Regions from separate parts of the Homo sapiens genome. Here all the other regions are reported to be linked to region 1. Evidence: microRNA targets listed by miRTarBase, many of them from high-throughput screens and not tested one by one. Region 1 holds a microRNA gene; each other region holds the end of a gene's coding sequence. Distances are from middle to middle.

Region 1 (4,149 bases):
GTGACTTGAAAATGTTGCAAAAAGTTATTGAATTAGGATTTTACCTAATTCAATACTTGTGAACCAAAGGGAAAATATTATTTAGGGCCTTAAAAAGATTATAAACCTAACTTTGCTAACCCACAGAATGACCAGAAACCTGCTAATTGAGATTACTAGGTTTGTAATTTGAAAATCGCGGGGAGAGGATCAAGCAGGAGTAGCAGTGGTTGGAGGCTCAGATACCCCATTTTACAGTGTGAGTTACATGTATCTCTTTCTTTTTTGTTGATGGTTGCCCACCAGGTCTGATCATTTAAAGTATATGAGTTTGGCTGTGCTTATTTCAGCTGTAGACTTGCCCGTAGGTGTTTAGTTTGGCTTAAAAGTCGTCTTACCTTACTTGGAGGGTATAAAGCCAAGTGAACTAGTTTCTCCCCAGGCTAATTTTTCACACCGCTCTTCTTTGTTACAGAGAAATGATATCGCCATGGCAATTACAAAATTTGATCAGTTTGATTTTCTCATCGATATTGTTCCAAGAGATGAACTGAAACCTCCAAAGCGTCAGGTGAGCTGTGAAGGGATTGCAGTTGCTGCTGACTGAAGAGCGCTTTGTATACTGGTGTCAGATACGCTCCTTCTCTCTCAGCACAAGTCATTTGCTATTCCTTTTGCTTCTCGTTTCTAGACCAGATTCATTCTTAACATCTCCTTCTGTTACTCATTTCTGGATACTTTTAACTCAGTGCCTCCGAAGTGGTATTTCAGTGAAAATAGACAAAATGAAAATGAAAGACTTTAGTTACAAATGGTAAAGTTAAGCTCATTTCAAGTTATCTTAGGAAGTCTATCAGAGCTCTTCATCTGGGATAGGAGAATATTCCCAGAAAGTTATAGATTTTAGATTTTTAAGAAACAGCTTCTCTATGTGCACAGTGGCATTTGGAGTGAATGGACTATGTTTTCTCTTCCTCTATATTGTGGTTCATTATATCTTTATATAGTACCCTGACTGCACACTAGAATCACCTGTTGGGGTTTTAAAAATATCAGCGCCCAGGCTCTAACCCACATCAGCTGAATCAGAATCTCATGATGGAGCCCAGGCATCAGTACCTTTTAAAACTCCCTGGATGCTTTTAATGTGCAGTCAGATTTGAGAACCACCACTTGAGCTGTTTTGCAAGCAATCACAAGAAAGAATATGAACGTCTGCCTTCCCGTCTCTTCTGCCTGCCCCTCTCCAAAGGTCACACTAGTTGTTTTTTCAGCACCTTGGGTGCATATAGCTCTTAATTGTGATTGTAATAGACCTCTGTCCTTTAGAGCTCATTGTTTTAAGCATGCAGATTGCATGATTCACTAGGTGCCACTTGGGAAATTGTGGCAGAATCTCACAGGAGCAAAGCTGTGCCTTGTTCTGCTTGCTTTGTTATATAAAACTTTATTTTTAATGAATTATTTCATAGTATATTATCCTTAGAAGCAGTCATTCAGTGACAGCCATTCTCCCCATCCCAGCCTGTATTAATAACCAGTCAGAGAAAGTCTAGGAGAAGTGGGCATCCTAATGAACATTTGTAATTCTGACCCTGCATGAGGGCCTTTGGATTAGCAAGCCCTCTGTCACCTCCTTACTAGAGTAGGGTGTGCCTCACTGCGTCTCCGTTCTTTCTGGGCAGTCTTTGCTACTGTAAACATCCTTGACTGGAAGCTGTAAGGTGTTCAGAGGAGCTTTCAGTCGGATGTTTACAGCGGCAGGCTGCCACGGTCGTCCCCAGCTACGCACCGGCTTTGAAACATTGCAGGTTTGTGCCCACAGGCTCAATTCCTCCTCTTGGGGGTCCTTCCCTCCTCTCTCAGAAGTCACAACAAGAACTCAGGCCATTTATCTTCCTTCAGAACAAAGAGTATCATACACCTGCTTTCCTTGTTGAAATTGTTTTCTCCTTTTGTCTATCAGAAGCCCCCTTTAAAACAAGATTGTGAGCTCTGTGATGAAATCAGGCCTTGCTCACTCTCATTGTGCTAACTCCTTGTTTTCTGTGGGCTGCCTGCTGAATACACTGGCTGGAGAGAAGGGTCACATCCTGTCAGTTCCTCCAAATTCCTCAGTGCTTCTGGGTCTCTCGGGGTGTCATACAGCTCCTTATTCCATCTTAGCCAGACTCAAAATGCTATGATCCATCTGATTTTAAAGTGTGTCTAGCTGAAACAGCTTCTTGTTGCTTGGATTTAGTTCTTTGTAGGTGTTCGAGGCATTGATTGGCATCGTATTCGGGACAGCTGCTGCCTGGCCTTTGAAAGGTTGAGATTGCTGAAAGCTGGCCTGAAATTCTAAGATAGCATTTTTAATCCTCTGTAGACATGAAGTTTTCCCAGGCTTCAAATTGGCTGGCACCTCCTAAAGTCCTTTAAAACGCCTACTCTCCAAAACCCACCCTTTCTGAAGGAGGCAGCAGTTCACTCTTGCTACTAAAGCGAATGTACTTTTTTCCAGTCAGGGCTGGTTGCACAACACTGTAGAGATGGCCCTAGGATGTGATGCTGCTCTTCTCTGGCACTGTTCGTCAGTCTCAGCTTCTGGAAAGATTCCAAGAGCAAGCCCTGTAGTTGGGGAGGCCACTGCTAAAGTTGAGCAAGTGCCCCATTCTGGATTGATCCAGTCATTAAAGCATTGTTCTGCCACTTGGGGCAACCTCCCACTGCTGGGAAAAGGAACTAGTCAGAAATACTGAATTGTGAGTCCAAGGCCCTGACTTCTCAAAGATACTTGAGAGTTTCGCTTGTTCTTCAGAGAAGCAAGTAAAGATTATTTGAAGGTAGGAGGTAGTTGAGGCCTGACTTCTGCCCCACTAAAGCTATTGAGTTGAAAGTTCCTGCCCATTGAAATGTCATTATCTTTTCACCCATTTCTTTAAACCAAGCATAATCATTTCCTTGCTGGCTTGACCTCCATTGGCAGAATGAGTCTTCATAATGCAGAAGAGCCTTAGATATGCCTTCTTCCATTCCAGTGATTTGAGAACAGTTGTGCCTTGTCCTAACAACACAAACCTAGGTGCCTCCACTTGATTCTCAGTGTCCTAGATACTGTCTAGTTCATAAACAGTTTAAGAGGATGTAGTAAGCAGCATAGGAGGAGCTCTTGTCCTGCTCTCACAGCTTTTGGCAAGAGATATTTTGGGTTCTGGAAGGGGTTTTTAAAGGGTTTGCTTTTTGTCTGACAAAAAGATCATATTCAATACTAGATCAGCTGTAGTTGGGGATAACTGGAGACTAAACAATCACAGGTCACGGCTAGAAAATGCAGGTGTCTCCCTGCTGCCTAGCTTCCTACACAGCTGGTTCTGAGGCTCTCATTCCTGTATACCCTCTCATTACCCAAGAGCTTTTCCAAGTTAGGTCTGGATTTCAGTGATTTGTGCTTTTTGTAAAATAATAAGGGAGATCTCAGTGGAACACAAGTACCTTGAACCTACTTCAATAGCTTTGCAAAGAGCAGTTGGCTTCTGTTTCTTGGCTGCAAAAGGTATCAGTATTTTAGCTTTGCCACAGCCAATACCTAGTTTCCAGGCTGACATTTATTTATAATGATGATAAGTTGGGGTTGAAATTGTTGTGGAAATTGAGACCTAGATGAAAATAAAAGGGAATCTCCTTTTCCTTCTGCCTTAGCATAATCATATTGAGGGTTAAAACTATTTGTGTCTGAAGCACAGACTATATCAACCTAAAAAGTCAGTTCATATATTAACTTAGAAACCCAGAATGTTACAGGTATCTCCCTAAGCTGGGTAGATGGCTGTCAAGTAACCATGTCATGCAGAGACCCATGTTTCTCAGGGGTAGATACTGGCAGTCCTAGTTTTAGTATCCTAGCCCCCAGACATCAGGCAAACAAAGGATACTCAGCTCTGTTCCACAGGGGACACTAGCTGCTTCCTCACACTGTGGCCACAGAGTCTTAGAGGTACCAAAAGAGAGTTTAGAGACTACTTTTTTCTATTGGTAACAGCTGTTGGGTTTAAGAGAATTTGTCATATCAGCAAGTTGGATTCAGAGAACTACTTTCCTGCCTCTAACTGTCTGCCTGTCTAAATCCATTCATCATTCATCACGCACTTACTGAGTGCCTACCTGGGAACGCGGGGGATAGCAGAGAGC
Region 2 (4,149 bases), not on the chromosome of region 1:
AGAAGAGAATCAAGGTTTGAAAGGTAGAAAGGTGGCCAGGCGTGGTGGCTCACACCTGTAATCCCAGCACTTTGGGAGGCCGAGGCGGGCGGATCACGAGGTCAGGAGATCGAGACCATCCTGGCTAACACGGTGAAACCCCGTCTCTACTAAAAATACAAAAAAAAATTAGCCAGGCATGGTGGGGGGCACCTGTAGTCCCAGCTACTCCGGAGGCTGAGGCAGGAGAATCACTTGAACCCGGGAGGTGGAGTTTGCAGTGAGCCAAGATTGCACCACTGCACTCCAGCCTGGGTGACAGAGTGAGACTCCGTCTCAAAAAAAAAAAAAAAAAAAAAAAAAAAAAAAAAAAAGGAAAGGTACAGAGGCAGAGCTGGTTTTCAGAAATGTCTTCCAAATACTATATCTCATATAGGAAAGCAATTCGATGACATCTCCCCAAATTTGATAATCCTAAAAATTAACATAGTTATTGATAGTGAGCTATGAAACTAAAAACAACCTTTCTAAACTATTGATAATACAAATTTTTAAGAGAGCAGTGCTGGAAGAAATAATGAATTCTCCCCACCATGCCCCCAACCATTAGCATTCGTAGGAACCTCTAGCTGATGCCAAGAAGGAAGGAGGAGCTTGGCTGCCCTAAAGCTTCTCTTGGCACCACCCATGGGAATGGCAGGAGGCAGGGAAGGGGCTGCAGGCACACCCTGGGGGAGAAGCAGGGGCCGCTCCACCAACGCGTGGAGAACACGAAAGGCCCTGGGGATTCCCACATAAACTCACTCAGGTGGGACATGCAACCCTCTGCCTACAATGGGGGCTCGGGTCATTGTTATGGGGCCAGTGAAGAGCCTGTGCCTTGGCAAGCAGAACACCGTGGTGACCTTGGGTAATAGAGAGGTCATGAGATGCCCGAATACACAAATTACATGGGAGCAACCAAAATGTTAGCACTCTAGAGATTGGGGTTATGAGTAATTTGTTGTCTTCTACAATTGTCTATCATTTTTAACATTAAAACACTAAAATTTAAAAATGATATGGGGATAACATCCAGAATATGAATATGTCCATGTATGACTATACCACATTTTGTTTACCGACTCATCAGTTCATGGACATTTAGATGGTTCCACTTGTTGGCAAATGAGAATAAGGCTGCTATGAATATCATCATATGAGTTTTTATGTGATATACATTTCAGTTCCCTTCAGTAGTTACCTAAGAGTGGAATTGCTGAGTCATATGGTAACTCTACATGGAACATTTGAGGAACTATTTTTCAAAGTAGTGGCATGATTTTTTTATTTTCATCCAATGCACAAGGGCTCCCATTTCTCCACATTCTCATCAGTGCTTCTTATTGTCTTTTTGATAATAGCCATCCCAGAGGATGTGAACTGCTATCTTATTGTGGTTTTGATTTGCATTTCCCTGATTTTCCCTGATGTCTAACAATGTTGAGCTCCTTTTCATGTGCTTATTAGCCATTTGTATATCTTCTTTGGAAAATGCCTATTTAAATCCTCTGCTGGGTCTTTAATTGGATTGTGTGTTTGAGTAGTAAGAATTCTTTATATGTCTAGATGCAAGTTCTTATCAAATATATGATTTCAAAGTAGTTTCTTCCACTCTGTTGGTGTATCTTCATTTTCTTCATAGTGCCCTCAGAAGCACAAAAACTATTCGTTTTGATGTAGTTAGTTAATCTAGTTTTTCCCTGTGGTTTTGGTGTCATTATCTAAGAACCATTTCATACTCCAAGGTCATGAAAACTTAACCTGTTTTGCTTCTAGTAATCCTCTAGTTTTGGCTTTTACAATTAGGTCATTGATCTATTTTTTCTATTTTTTTTTTGTTTGTTTGGTATATGGTATGAGGTCAAGATTCAAATTCACTCTTTTGCATGTGGACATCCAGTTGTCTTAGCAGCATTGTTTGTTGAAAACATTCCTCTTTTCCCATGGAATTGTATAGTACCTGTGAAAATACATTGACCACAACTGTGAGGCTTTATTTCAAGAGTCTCAAACCTACCCCATTGATCCATCTTTCTATCCTTATGCAAGAGCCATGCTGCCTTGATGACTGTAGCTTTGCAGCCCATTTAGAAATTGGAAAACCTGAGTCCTCAAACTTTGCTTTTCTTTTTCAAGATTGTTTTAGCTATTTAGGGTCCCTTGAATGTCCACATAAATTTTAGGATCAACTTGTCAATTTTTGAAAAAAGAAATCTGAGATGTTGATCGGAATTGCATTAAATTGGTAGAACAATTTTTTTTTGGAGTGTTTCAATCTTCACAATATTAGGTCTTCCAATACATGAACATAGGATTTTTTCCCCCATTACTTTGGTCCTCCTTAACTTCTTCCAATGGTGTTTTGTAGTGTTAAGTGTCCAAGTCTTGTACTTTTTTGGTTGCATTTGTTCCCAGGAATTTTATTGTTTCCTTACAACCTTTTTGCTTGCTTTTTGCTGTTGTAAAGAAACACAGCTGACTATTGTGTATAGTCCTTGTGTTCTGCACTCTGCTGAGCTCGGTTATTGGCTCTAATAGTTGTGTGTGTGTGTGTGTGTGTGTGTGTGTGTGTGTCCCTCAGCATCTTCTGTATACAAGATGAGGTTTTCTGTGAATAGAGATAGTTTTGCTTCCTTTTTTCTTACCTGGATGGCTTTATTTTCTTTTCCTGTTATGTTATTCTGGCTATAGCTTCAGTGAAATGTTGCATAGAAGTGGTGGGTGTGGACATTCTTTTCCTGTTCCTGATCCTAGGGGAAAACATCCAGGTTTTCATAGTTAAGCACCGTGTTCACTGTGGGTAGATGGCCTTTATCAGGCTGAGAAAAGTCCCTTCTGTTCCTCCCTGTGCCAAACCAAAGCTGGGAAGCCTGTGGACACTTGGATTCCTCCTCACTCTGAGCCCAGAGATGGAGGGTGCACTTCAGCCTGTGTTCAGCCACACCGTCTTGGATCCTTGAAGCAGCACAGTTTCCAGTGTTGTCCTACAGAGCATCTCAGGGACACAGCTCATTCTAGTCTCGCTTCCCCATCTCCTGGCTTGACCCACAAACTGGGGACTGGCTGGACCCAGAGAGCACCCATTACATCCCTTCCTAGGCACTGAGGGCAAAGTTCTCCTTCTCTCCCAAACATATCCTCCCATGGGGAAGAAGTAGGAGTCCAAATTCCAACCAAGACAGACTGAATCCCACTGAGATACAGCTGGGACTCCCTGTGTACTAATGAGAGATACTCACTCATTCACTCATTCATTCCTCGTCTTCATTCATTCATACATACTGCTAGTGGTTCCTTCATTAATCAGTTCAACAACTGTTTCTGGAATGGGAGCTGGGCCTGGCACACTGTTACAGCAGTGGGAGCAATAAGCTATCAGGGAGGAGGGGAAGGACATGTGGCCAGTTTGCCAATGAGACAGAGGCTGGAAGAAAAGAGTCAGTGAGACCAAGGCTGAGGGATGGAGAATTTATTTAGTGCTGCACCCAGATGCATTTTGGATTTCCATAGATACATGTGATCATTTGGGTTGCAGGACATCCATCTGCAAATGTCGTGAAGCTCCTGGCAGGCAAAGGAAAGAAGGGTTTGCTGTCTCCCATGGAATTATCAAGAAGGGGAATTCCAGGCTCTTGCTTGGCATGAGGGCAGCCCCCAGTGCAGTTTGGCTCAGACATATGGGGGCATGTGGGAAAGAGGGGCAAAATTGCCTGGGTCTTGGGATATTCTTATAGGGAATGGGCAGGGAGTGGTTCATTCCATTTCCTCAGGGGCTGGAAAAAGACGCCCTGAGCCAAGGGCTCTTTTCAGATCCAGAAGGGGATGTGCTTCAAGGGTAGTCACTTGTTGGAAAGCACAGATCTTCAGGAGCTACCTGAGGTTTCCCACTAGAGCCTCAGATCTTGCACTGGTAGCACACAGGGACACAGCATCTGGACTGGGAGCAGCAGGGCTTGCAGCAGCTGGACTGGCAGCAGGATGACCCACAGCCTGAGGATGAGCAGCAGGGCTTGCAGCAGCTGGATTGGCAGCAGGATGACCCACGACCCGAGGAGGAGCAACAGGGCTTACAGCAGCTGCACTGGGAGCAGTAGGGCTTGCAGCAGCTGCACTGGCAGCAGGATGACC
Region 3 (4,000 bases), 19 Mb from region 1:
ATGTTACCCCTGAAATCTAGTTGGGGCTCTGTGGTGTCTGATTTTCCCTGGCTGCTTCTTTAGTTTTGTCTCCTTTTCCAGGCTCAACGAGGTGCTGATGGAAGCAGAAGAGCCTGAAGTCTTGCAGGACTCACTGGATAGATGTTATTCGACTACTTCAACTTACTTTCAACTACATGCCTCATTCCAGCAGTATAGAAGTGCCTTTTACTCATTTGAGGAACAGGACGTCAGCTTGGCCCTTGACGTGGACAATAGGTTTTTTACTTTGACAGTGATAAGGCACCACCTGGCCTTCCAGATGGGAGTCATATTCCCACACTAAGCAGCCCTTACTAAGCTGAGAGATGTCATTGCTGCAGGCAGGACGTATAGGCACATGTAGGTTTGAATGAAACTGTAGTTCCCTTTGGAAGCCCAGTCATAGGATGGGAAAGTGGGCATGGCTCTATTCCTATTCTCAGACCATGCCAGTGGCCACCTGTGCTCAGTCTGAAGACGTTGGACCCAAGTTAGGTGTGACACGTTCACACGACTATGTAGCACATGCCGGGAGTGATCTGCCAGACATTCTAATTTGAACCAGATATCTCTGGGTAGCTACAAAGTTCCTCAGGGGTTTCATTTTGCAGGCATGTCTCTGAGCTTCTATACCTGCTCAAGGTCAGTGTCATCTTTGTGTTTAGCTCATCCAAAGGTGTTACCCTGGTTTCATTGAACCTAACCCCATTCTTTGTATCTTCAGTGTTGGTTTGTTTTAGCTGATCCATCTGTAACACAGGAGGGATCCTTGGCTGAGGATTGTATTTCAGAACCACTGACTGCTCTTGACAGTTGTTAACCCACTAGGCTCCTTTGAGTAGAGAAGCCATAGTCCTTCAGCCTCCAATTGATATCAATACTTAGGAAGACCACAGCTAGACGGACAAACAGCATTGGGAGGCCTTAGTCCTGCTCCTTTCAATTCCATCCTGTAAAGAACAGGAGTCAGGAGCCGCTGGCAAGAGACAGCATGTCACCTGGGACTCTGCCAGTGCAGAATATGAACAATGCCATGTTCTTGCAGAAAATGCTTAGCCTGAGTTTCATAGGAGGTAATCACCAGACAACTGCAGAATGTAGAACACTGAGCAGGACAACTGACCTGTCTCCTTCACACAGTCCACGTCACCACGAATCACACAACAAAAAGGAGGAGAGATATTTTGGGTTCAGAAGAAGTAAATGATAATGTAGCTACATTTCTTTAGTTATTTTGAACCCCAAATATTTCCTCATCTTTTTGTTGTTGTCATTGATTTTGGTGACATGGACTTGTTTGTAGAGGACAGGTCAGCTGTCTGGCTCAATGGTCTACATTCTGAAGTTGTCTGAAAATGTCTTCATGATTAAATTCAGCCTAAACGTTTCATCAAGAACACTACAGAGTCGATACTGTGAGTTTCCAACCTCAGCCCATCTGTGGGCAGAGAAGGTCTAGTTTGTCCATCAGCATTATCATGATATCAGGACTGGTTACTTGGTTAAGGAGGGGTCTAGGAGATCTGTCCCTTTTAGAGACACCTTACTTATGATGAAGTATTTGGGAGAGTGGTTTTTCAAAGTAGAAATGTCCTGTATTCCAGTGATCATCCTCTAAACGTTTTATCATTTATTAATCATCCCTGCCTGTGTCTATTATTATATTCATATCTCTACGCTGGAAATTTGCTGCCTCAATGTTTACTGTGCCTTTGTTTTTGCTAGTGTGTGTTGTTGAAAAAAAAACATTCTCTGCCTGAGTTTTAATTTTTGTCCAAAGTTATTTTAATCTATACAATTAAAAACTTTTGCCTATCACTCTGGACTGTTGGATTGTTTTTTACATTCAGCGTTATAATCTTTTGTTATGCTGATTGGTTTTGGTGGGTACTGATGCGAATTAATAAAAACATTTTCATTTCCCTGTTTATTTTCTAATCTCTTCCACCTTGTAGGCTATGTTTACCATATGTAGCAGAATGCATGTACTCCATTTCTTGGTTCTAGATATTTATATTCTTTGTGAGAGTGTGTGTGTGTGTGTCTGCGTGTGCCTCTGGCATTTAGGAAGGGTTGTGTAGCTCATGTTTGATATTGACTAAAAATGTTTCATAGTTTTCCCCCCTTTGAACTAGACACACTTCTAATATTTGGTTTATACGTTTTAAATTATGACTTTCAACATCACATATTTCCATATGACAGTCAATTACATGATGTGTTTTCTTTTTCCTACCTCCTTTACCTGCCACTTCTCATAATCGTATTTGAACCTAAACATACACCAGTGACATTCTGTGGTTGTCATCTTGCCCACACCTTGGTTTTTGGTTTAGATCCACAATTAAATATATTAATGCTCATGAGCTGTTCAAAAGTGAATGTCACAGTCATCACTTGCTGAGTGGTACTCATCCTAACAGAGTCCTCATGAGGGAATCAGGTCTCGCTGAGTTTAGCATGTTTAATAATCTTCCTCACGGTCTTGATACATGGATCGCATTACTGGATATAAGGTGTTTGCCCAAAATGATTTTTCTTGTGTTTTTAGGAGCTATTGTCTTCCTTGCGGGACATACATGGTGTATGTTCTCGTTGTGGGATTCTATTTTGTTCTACCAGGACCTATAATTTCTGCCAGTTACTTCATTTGTTCTCTTCACCATGAGTCTCCAGCGGATGCTTCCTTTGTCCATGCCTCCCCATCTCCCAGCAATTCTGCGTTTCCAGGACTGGCACCTCTGGTCCTCTGCATGGTGAAGCCCCTTCCTTTCAATTCCCCAGTAGCCAGTGCTCTAATCCACCAGGTCTCAGGCATGATCTGTGTTTCTCCACATGCTCTTTCTGAGGATAGTTTTACCTGTGTTCTGTCATGAACAGGCCCTCCCTGCTGTCCTGGCCTCGATTTGCTTAGTGTTTCCTGCTCCCTCTGCCCTTGTGTGGCTCCCAGACCAAGTGAAAGAAAATCACCTGAGGGCCACAGTGTTCCCTAGCCCTGGCGTTTAGGGACAGGGTTATGGGTGGGATTTTTGACTCTCTAAGTTAACCCCTAGGGCTTTGAAGTGTCTGTTGAGAAATTCAGCTGTTATCATCCTAGGTGGTCTTGCTCTCTCCTGTCCTCCTACTTCAAATGCAGAACTTCAATCGTGTACAAAAGAAGACCGAGTCATATAACAGAACACACCCTTATTCATTGGCTGGCTTCACCAATCATCTCATGGCTGAACTTTTAAAAATACACTCTTAGCCACATACCTATGAAATGTATATGTGTGTGTATACATATGTGAATTTGCTTCTGAGATTATGGAGGCTGAAATTCCCAAGATGGAAGGAAAGCTGGATGGATACCCAGGAAAGCATTTGTTTCCTATTAGGCCTCTTAATTCTCTCCTGGCCTTTGATTGATTGTATGAGTCCCACCCCCGTTAAGGGGGCAATCTGCTTCACTTAGTCTGCCCATCCCGATCTTAATCACATGCGAAACACTCTCTGGAACATCCAAGAATTTGACATCCAAGAATTTAGCACTAATACAATAATATTATCCAATGTAGATATATTCAGCTTTCCCCATTTGTACCAATAATGCCTTGTATAGCTGTTTTTGAAAGGGAAAATTTTCAAAGGAGAAACTTTGCATACAGTGAAATTCATAGATCTTAGGTGTACATTTCAATGACTTGCACTAAATATATACTCTTCTACCATCATCTCTATATGTTGATACAGGACATTTCCATTGCCCCAAAAGTTTCTCCTTCCAGTCCCTCCCCTTTCCCCTCAACATCTTTTATTATTGTGGTAAGTAGTTCTGGGGATGATTGATTCATCTACAACTTTAGAATTTGCAAAACATATCCCCTTCACCTTTTTAAATGGAGGTAGACTGGAGAAAGGGGGATATGGTGAGTACTGGAGCTAAACAGACCCTGCCTTTTTTTCCCCCCGAGATGGAGTCTCGCTCTGTCGCCATGCT
Region 4 (4,149 bases), not on the chromosome of region 1:
CTTTTTGATGGTATAAAAGCGATACATAATCAGTACAAACCATATACATACCACCATTTTTCAGTACAGTACTCATTACATGTGTCAACACTTTATTATAAGATAGGTTTTATGTTAGATGATAACACCAGCATCTTGCTCAATAAATTGAAGCCAGCTTTTTCAACAGAGAACATTATTAGAATGAAACTAGATGCAAGAACAGGAAAGTAAACACCTGTGTCATGTTCAACAAGACTGAACTACGGAGCAAAGAATCACACAGTGTTGCAAGATCTTGAACTGACTAGATGATAGGATTACAAAAACCACACAGCTATTGCTGGAAAATTATGTCATGCAGAGAACAGACTGGCACGATTACATATGTGGGTTTGTCCTACACAAACCAGACCTTTAAGTGAAACAAGTCTATCCAACCATCTTCCCATAAAACCTAGTTTCTATGGAAAACAATCAATTAAGCTAAACCCCCACATTTTAGATGTATATTCATTTATAGAAGCCCAAAAGGACAGTGGGGTTACAAATAATTTTATATTTTAGATGCTTTCATAATTTAAAAAGTTAACATTACAATTTGTGTTACTAAAATGCAAAAACAGGATTGGCATGCTGCCTCATGCCTGTAATCTGAACATTTTGGGAGGCTGAGGCAGGAGGACTTGAGCCCAGGAGTTCGAGCCCAGCCTAGGGAACACAGGGAAAACCCATCTCTACGCAAGACGTAAAAACTGGCCAGCTGTGATGGCATGCCCCTGTAGTCTGAGCTACTTGGGAGGCTGAGGTGGGAAGATCGCCTTGAGCCCAGGAAATTGAGGCTGGAGCTGTGATGACACTAGTGCACTCCAGCCTGGGGAACAGAGTAAGACCATCTCCCCCACTGCCCGCTACTCTCGCTACCAAAAAAACAGCAAAAGCAGGCTAGACTCCTCTAATTTCAGGGAGAGCTAGATGTTTTTTTTTTTCTCTTTTTTTCAGTTTTGCTCTGCCGCCCAGGCTGGAGTGCAGTGGTGTGATCTCAGCTCACTGCAACCTCCACCTCCCGGGTTAAAGTGATTCTCCTGCTTCAGCCTCCCAAGTAGCTGGGATTACAGGTGCCTCCCACCATGCCTGGCTAGTTTTTGTATTTTTAGTAGAGATGGGGTTTCACCATGTAAGCCAGGCTGGTCTCAGAACTCCTGGCCTCAAGTGATCTGCCAGCCTTGGCTGGGATTACAGATGTGAGCCACCACGCCCAGCCTCATTTTTTTTGAGACTGGGCCAGGGAAGGGGGCAGTGGGCCAGGGACTGTCTCTCTCTGTTGCCCAGGCTGGAGTGCAGGATCGTGATCATGGCCCATTGCAGCCTCTACCTCCCGGGTTCAAGCAATCCTCCCACCTCAGCCTCCCAAGAAGCTGGGACCACAGGCATGTTCCACCACACCCAGCTTATTTTTGGTAAAGATGGGGTTTTGCCATATTGCCCAGGATGGTCTCGAACTCCTGGGTTCAAGCAATCCACCCAGCGTTCCAAAGTGCTGGGATTATGTTGCGAAAAGCTGAGTGTTGGGAGAAGCTGAGGCAGGGCTTGCATTCTGACATAATGTAAAAGAGTCTTGGAATATGTCCAGGGTCAAGGGTCTAAAACCCCTTGTGGTCTTTGGAACACCAAGCTCTGTGCTAAAGGGTGGAAGGCTGCCCTGACGCACCATAATCTAAGCCCAGGGCATAAAATCCCTCGTGGCTTGGATAAAATCCAGGGCCTGTGGCTCTGGAATGTCTAGACTTGCTGGCTCCTTGCTCTCCCAGGATCGACTGTAACTTGAGTTAAAAGAACCTGCTCTCCATCATCTCAAGTAGCAGAGCAAATGCTAAACCATCACAGCTGTAAATCATGTGCTTAATGCAAGGTGCCCTTCTGACCTTCACATTCTCACCATCTGTTTCTTTGTTGGATTACCAATAAATAGTGTGGGCTCCCAGAGCTCACGGCCTTCACAGCCTCCACCATCCCGATGGTCTGCTGGTCCTACTTCTCTCTCAAACTGTCTTTTTCTCAATCCTTTGACTCCACTGGACTTTGTCACCCCCACGACCTGGTGTTGGGTCTGGTCACCCTAACAGGGTTACAGATGTAAGCCACTGCATCTAGCACCCACATTATCTTTGAAAGCAGTTGAGTCTTTGGCATGCAAGAACATTCCTGCACTGCAGTGAATCTGTGAACTTACTACTACGGATGCATACCAATTCACAACCAGTGAAAGGCCACGTACCTAAAAAGGTGTTTACTGCCTCAGAATATACTTGACAATTGTGGAAACGTTAGCAATCTACTCTTCCAAGATTCCTTGGAGTTGTCATACATAAGCAAATCCATATGGACTGAGGAATAAGGAGGAAGAGGATAAGGCTTATGGAAGATAAATCATGTTCTTGCCTCCGGTAGGTAGGATTCAATTTAGTCCCTGTATAAATGACTCCATGTTAATTTCCCTTCCCATATGGATGCTAATCCAGTGACTCATAAGCTTAGACCAACAAGCTCAGCATGAAAGCCAAGAAACTTCTGTTTCTCCTAAATTCCGTAGCCGACTCTCATACAGCGAGACCCTCACTGGGCCACTCTGGGAATGACTACAAATGAATATGATGGAGTCCATGTGAATAATGGTTGAGCAGGTGAGGAAAAGGGTCACATCACAGACCTCAAGTCAGACCCACTGATTTGGAAAGCCAACAGTATACTCAGAAGCAAAGCAATGTTATACTTTGTTTTTTCTGAGACAGAATCTCACACTGTCACCCAGGCTACAGCACAGTGGGGTGATCGTGGCTCACTGGAGCCTCAACCTCTTGCGCTCACTTGATCCTTCCACCTCAGCCTCGTGAGGAGCTGGGAGCACAGATGCATGCCACCATGCCACACTAATTTTTTTTTTTCTTTTGTAGAGATGGGGTTTTACCAAGTTGCCCAGGCTAGTCTCAAACTCCTGGCCTCAAGCAATCCTCTCACCTTGGCTACCTAAAGTGCTGAACAACCACAGAGAAGCACTCTATTTTTCCCTCTATTACATTAGCAAATACACAGAAGGACAATTTAGAAACAGATTATACCCAGGAACATATGTCAGGATTACTTATGGAGGTTTTATTATTTTTATTTATTTTTGAGACTGAGTCTTGCTCTGTCATCAGGCTGGAGTGCAGTGGCTCACTGCAACCTCCGCCTCCCAGGTTCAAGCAATTCTCCTGCCTCAGCCTCCCTAGTAGCTGGGATTACAGGTGTCCACCACCATGCCCAATTAATTTTTGTATTTTTGGTACAGACAGGGTTTCACCATGTTGGCCAGGATGGTCTCGATCTCGTTGACCTTGTGATCCGCCTGCCTCGGCCTCCCAAAGTGCTGGGATTACAGGCGTGAGCCACCGCCCCTGGACTACTTATGGAGGTTTTAAAAAATCTTTTAAGTCCAGGCCTGACGTTTAGAGAAGGTTACAAAGGCGGCCAGGATCTGAGTATTTCCAAAAAGCTCTGGAGGCAGCATTGAGGTTTCCTTCCAGTTGAATCACTGACTTTAGGTCGACTGGGGTACTTTGGGTTTTTTGGGCCATTTTTTGGGGGTGTGGGAAGCTTTTCTCACAGATTTACTAGGAGTGGTGAAAAACTTGGCCTCTGGCTTTTTTGGAGTCTGTCTCGCATCTTTTTTCCCCAGCGAAGGACTTTTTTCCTTCACTGCCTCTTCTTTGATTTTTGGCTTCTTCTCTGGGCTTTTCCCTGGGGTCTCAGACTCTGCAGCTTTTGGGGTCTCAGATGCTGGCAAAGCCTTTCTTTTCTTCCCACGAGGTGTGCTGGGATTAGGACTCTTTGCTGGAGACTTCTTTCCTGTGGCATGTTTTTGAATCTAAGAAAAAAAAAAGTAAGTTTAATATAGAAAAAGCCACAAAACCTGACACTCTAACTCCAGGAGTTACTGTTTTTATTTGTATTTATTTATTTTTCAGACTGAGTTTCGCTCTTGCTGCCCATGCTAGAGTGCAATGGCACAATCTCAGTTCACTGCAACCTCTGCCTCCCGAGTAGCTGGTATTATAGGTGTGTGCCACCACGCCCGGCTCATTTTTTGTATTTTTAGTAGAAACAGGGTTTCACCATGTTAGCCAGGCT
Region 5 (4,149 bases), not on the chromosome of region 1:
GCTGGACACAGTGGCTCATACTTACAATTCCAGCGCTTTGGGAGGCCAAGGCAGGAGAATCACTTGAGCCCAGGAGTTCAAGACCAGCCTAAGTGACATATCAAGACCCTGTCTCTACAAAAATAAAAATAAAAAAGTTAGTCAGCTGTAGTGGTGCACACCTGTAGTCCTAGCTACTCAGGAGGCTGAGGCAGGAGGACCACTTGAGCCCAGGAATTCCAGGCAGCAGTTAGCTGTGATCAAGCCACTATACTCCAGCCTGGGTGACAGAGCAAGACCCTACCTCTTTAAAAATAATATTAAAAAAAATTAAGACTAGGGCAGGCCAGTATTGAGCAGAAATGCAGAATAACCAATAACCTGTGTTCCCTTCCTATGTACTCTGGAGGTCCACGTTCCCACCTTCAGCTCTGCCTTCCCCATGTCAGAGGCAAGATTCCAAGCCAGGGCTCTTTCTAGTCCTTCCTTTGGTTGTTTTCTCATATAGGAAAAAGAAGGCCGAGGACTGGACTTAAGCAGTGGCTTAGTGGTGACTTCATTGTGCAAATCATCTTCTCTGCCAGCTTCCCAGAACAATCTGCGGCACTAGGTCCTACCTCCAGCCAATGAATGGGATCATTCTGGATGTCACCAGCCCAATAGGCTCAGCTCATGATGACAGAACACATCTTGGAAAGACTGACTCTGTTATGTAACTCTTCATTTATGTTAAGTATTAATAGGTCAAAACCAAAATGACCTAACCCTCCTGGACCTATTTATCCTGAAACACCTTCTTGTATTCATTAACCATAGTACTCCTCCCCACCTCAAGTAGACACCTCTCTCAGGAGCTTCTGAGTCAGACGCCTCTGGAGCGAGCCCTATGTCAGGCACTCCACCTGGGGGGCCCTTCCCCAGCATACCTGCTGGTGTGTAAGTGTGGACTAACCCGCCGCCACCACCCTCTGTTCCAGCAGGCTCTGCATGAATCTTTGTGCACTTGCACCTCTTTTTCACATGGGCCACAGTTTCAGTACTTCAGCCTCAGTGGGGTTCCTGATGTTTATCTAGGGTGTTACTCAAGCCCAGTTTGAGATTTTGGAGTCTCCTGTGATCACATCTTGTCTCGGCTGTAGGAATCAACAGAAGGAGACGTCCTCTACATAAAAGCTCCATGTGAAAAGCTACTCCTAGTCTTAACATTTGCAGTCCTTGTGTCACTGTCTTCTGGTCCTGATGTAGTCCCACTGTTTCTAGAAGTCTCTTTTAAGCATTATTTTTGAAAAAAAAAATATTTTTATAGATGAATACTCAGGCTAACCTAGTGGATGTGATCTTGGAACTTCCATGATTATCCACTTAAAGATCAAAGTATTATATGCTGTGTGCTTTTTAGGTGTTTGTTAGTACTGTGAAGGCAAAAATGCTTTCTACATTGACATTCATTCCTATTTTACTGGGCACCTATGAATGTATGCTGTGTGCTAGAAATAGACTAAAACATATTCCTATAGCATGTTAGTGTGTTTGCATGTTTGCTGAAAATCCTTTGTGTATAAACCAGTTTGTAAGGTTCTCTGGGTTAGGTAGGGACTCTGCAGTTTCTTCCTGTCAAAATCTCTCCTACCAAGATGGTGTTCCACTGTCCAGCCCAGCATGAGTAGCAGGTAGAGCACAGCTTTACTGGCTGTTTGTATGCTTTGGTTTAGTGCAATGTGTGGTAGATTACTTATCAGAAAACATATATGTCATCTCTAGAACGAAGAAAAAGCATAGTAGTTCAATTCCCAGTGTGTCCCTTTGATTTTTTTTTTTTAATAGTAAAAATAAGAATCTGTACTGACTTTTCACTTGGCCATTCTGGTTTTAAAGGACAAGCTACAAGCTCTGTGTTTCTGTACTGATGTGTCACTTATTAAATACTTTTGTACCATGAGTAAAACTTCAGGTGTTTCGCAAGAACCACCATTCTCAATGAGTTGTATTCTTTCTTTAATGTAGCCACTGCCATAAGGTTATTAATTATTGCTTTGGTCTTTTTTTTTTTTTTTTAAATGCCACCTCTCCTGGGCTTGCTTTCCCTTGCTTTGTCTATAAATGGGAGGTCCACCACAGCCCAGGCATGCTGGGAGCACTTGCTAAGACCTGTGGACCAGCCTGCCTACTTGAGAAAAGGCCAGTGGACAAGTCCAGAGATTAAATGATGAAAAAACGATGATAAAGGCAAATTGGTTTTTCACCCTTTTTTTTTTCTTTTTTTTTTGGGAATGGAGTTTTGCTTTTGTTGCCCAGGCTGGAGTGCAATGGCACGATCTCGGCACACTGCAACCTCCACCTCCCGAGTTCCAGTGATTCTGCTGCCTCAGCCTCCCAAGCAGCCGGGATTATAGGTGTCCACAAACACGCCCAGCTAATTTTTGTATTTTTAGTAGAGACAGGGTTTCACCATGTTGGTCAGGCTGGTCTTGAACTCCTGACTTCAGGTGATCACCCACCTCCCAAAGTGCTGGGATCACAGGTGTGAGCCACCATGCCTGGCTGGTTTTTTCACCCTTTCTGCTCAGCAAAAAGGAGGCAAGTCTGTTGTCACTTAATATTATAAGTAGACATTCTGATTTCTTTTAAAATAAACTAGCAGCCTGTCTCTCCATCCTCAGACACTTAGACTGTGATGTCAGGTGCCACCTTTGATGGGGCTCCCACCTGCCCTGGGGTGAGGAAGCCCCAGTCCTCTTGCTTAGGACTCCTCCCCAGTGGGAAGCAGTAGTCACACAAACTGCTGAGCCTTAGCATTGACTGAATGCCTTTAATGTCCCCCCTGAAACAGGCTTTTGATTCATGTTGGAAACATAAGAGGGGTGAGCTCTCTAACTTGCCTGGGATTTTGTTTTACATTTAAGTGTATTGCCCTTCCTTAAAACCAAACTCTTATAACTTACTCCTGGAAGGACTAATTTATTATTCAAACTCCGAGACTTTAGAGTAAAAAGTGATGCTATTAATATTTATACCAGGGCCAAGTGTGGTGGTTCATGCCGATAATCTCAGCGCTTTGGGAGGCTGAGATGGGAGGATCACTTGAAGCTGGGAGTTTAAGACCAGCCTAAGCAATATAGCGAGACCCAATGTCTACAAAAAATTTAAAAATCAGCCGGGCACAGTGGCTCACGCTGGTAATCCCAGCACTTTGGGAGGCCGAGACGGGCGGATCACGAGGTCAGGAGATCGAGACCATCCTGGCTAACACGGTGAAACCCCGTCTCTACTAAAAATACAAAACATTAGCCAGGCATGGTGGCACGCACCTGTAGTCCGTTACTCGGGAGGCTGAGGCAGGAGAATCGCTTGAATCTGGGAGGCAGAGGTTGCAGTGAGCCGAGATCACGCCACTGCAGTCCAGCCTGGGTGACAAAGTGAGACTCCATCTCAAAAAAAAAAAAAAACAAAAATTAGCTGGGCATGGTGGCCTGCACTTGTAGTCCAAGCTACTGAGGAAGCTGAGGTGGGAGGATTGCTTGAGCCTGGGCAGTCAAGGCTGCAGTGAGCTGTAGTTGTGGCACTGTACTCCAACCTGGGCAAGAGAGCAAGACCCTGTCTCTTAAAAAAAAAAAAAATCGGCCAGGTGTGGTGGCTCACACCTGTAATCCCAGCACTTTGGGAGGCTAAGGCAGGCGGATCATGAAGTCAGGAGATCAAGACCATCCTGGCTAACATGGTGAAACCCCATCTCTACTAAAAATACAAAAAATCAGCTGGGCGTGGTGGCGCTCACCTGTAGTCTCAGCTACTCAGGAGGCTGAGGCAGGAGAATTGCTTGAACCCAGAAGGCGGAGATTGCAGTGAGCCAAGATTGCGCCATTGCACTCCAGCCTGGGCACTAGAGCAAGACTCGGTCTCCAAAAAATAAAAATAAAAAATAACAAAAGGGTACAGAGGGTACCTAGAAATGCTTTTACCTTATTGTTCAGAGAACGTTGTTCTGTGGTGTTGGAAAAATAAGCTCAGGAGTACTCAGCTGCTTTCCTCTGCTGTCTCTACCAGCTCTGAGCAGGCAGCATGGCCAGCCACCTTGATTATATGACCTCCAAGCTTCACAGACTTTCAAGGTAGATGATATTGTTGAAATCTTTGATTCAGTAAGCTCACCTAACCTGCCCAAAGCAAGGG

The links. Region 1 holds the annotated microRNA hsa-miR-30e-3p (CUUUCAGUCGGAUGUUUACAGC, at 1,717-1,738, shown strand). A microRNA usually pairs through its seed, bases 2 to 8, with sites in the 3' UTR of a target mRNA and lowers its output. Matches are read on the target gene's strand: a 7mer-m8 pairs with bases 2 to 8, a 7mer-A1 pairs with bases 2 to 7 and ends in A, and an 8mer does both.
Region 2: miRTarBase lists KRTAP5-9 as a target of hsa-miR-30e-3p. Seed matches in the 3' UTR shown: 7mer-A1 at 3,825-3,831.
Region 3: miRTarBase lists NBPF3 as a target of hsa-miR-30e-3p. Seed matches in the 3' UTR shown: 7mer-A1 at 1,371-1,377.
Region 4: miRTarBase lists RSL1D1 as a target of hsa-miR-30e-3p. Seed matches in the 3' UTR shown: 8mer at 975-982 and 8mer at 58-65.
Region 5: the mRNA of ARL2BP is a reported target of hsa-miR-30e-3p. Seed matches in the 3' UTR shown: 7mer-A1 at 1,521-1,527.

Annotation. Positions count from the first base shown.
Region 1 is chr1:40,752,697-40,756,845 of GRCh38, forward strand. MIR30E (microRNA 30e) reads left to right here and starts at 1,659; the gene lies at 1,659-1,750. It overlaps NFYC (nuclear transcription factor Y subunit gamma), which reads left to right. Exons shown (of 10, transcript NM_014223.5): 5 at 455-550.
Region 2 is chr11:71,548,935-71,553,083 of GRCh38, reverse strand. It overlaps KRTAP5-9 (keratin associated protein 5-9), which reads right to left. Exons shown (of 1, transcript NM_005553.4): 1 at 3,476-4,149. The coding sequence ends at 3,917. Among named protein-coding and RNA genes, the nearest start is that of KRTAP5-9, 2.6 kb to the right of the region's middle. RefSeq lists enhancers at 2,651-2,700, 4,099-4,149, 3,701-4,149.
Region 3 is chr1:21,483,062-21,487,061 of GRCh38, forward strand. It overlaps NBPF3 (NBPF member 3), which reads left to right. Exons shown (of 15, transcript NM_032264.6): 15 at 82-1,839. The coding sequence ends at 325. Among named protein-coding and RNA genes, the nearest start is that of ALPL, 24 kb to the right of the region's middle.
Region 4 is chr16:11,834,228-11,838,376 of GRCh38, forward strand. RSL1D1 (ribosomal L1 domain containing 1) reads right to left here. Exons shown (of 9, transcript NM_015659.3): 9 at 1-3,886. The coding sequence ends at 3,560. Among named protein-coding and RNA genes, the nearest start is that of BCAR4, 7.5 kb to the left of the region's middle.
Region 5 is chr16:57,251,679-57,255,827 of GRCh38, forward strand. ARL2BP (ARF like GTPase 2 binding protein) reads left to right here. Exons shown (of 6, transcript NM_012106.4): 6 at 488-1,957. The coding sequence ends at 589. It overlaps LOC124903697 (a long non-coding RNA gene), which reads right to left and starts at 114. Exons shown (of 2, transcript XR_007065082.1): 1 at 26-114.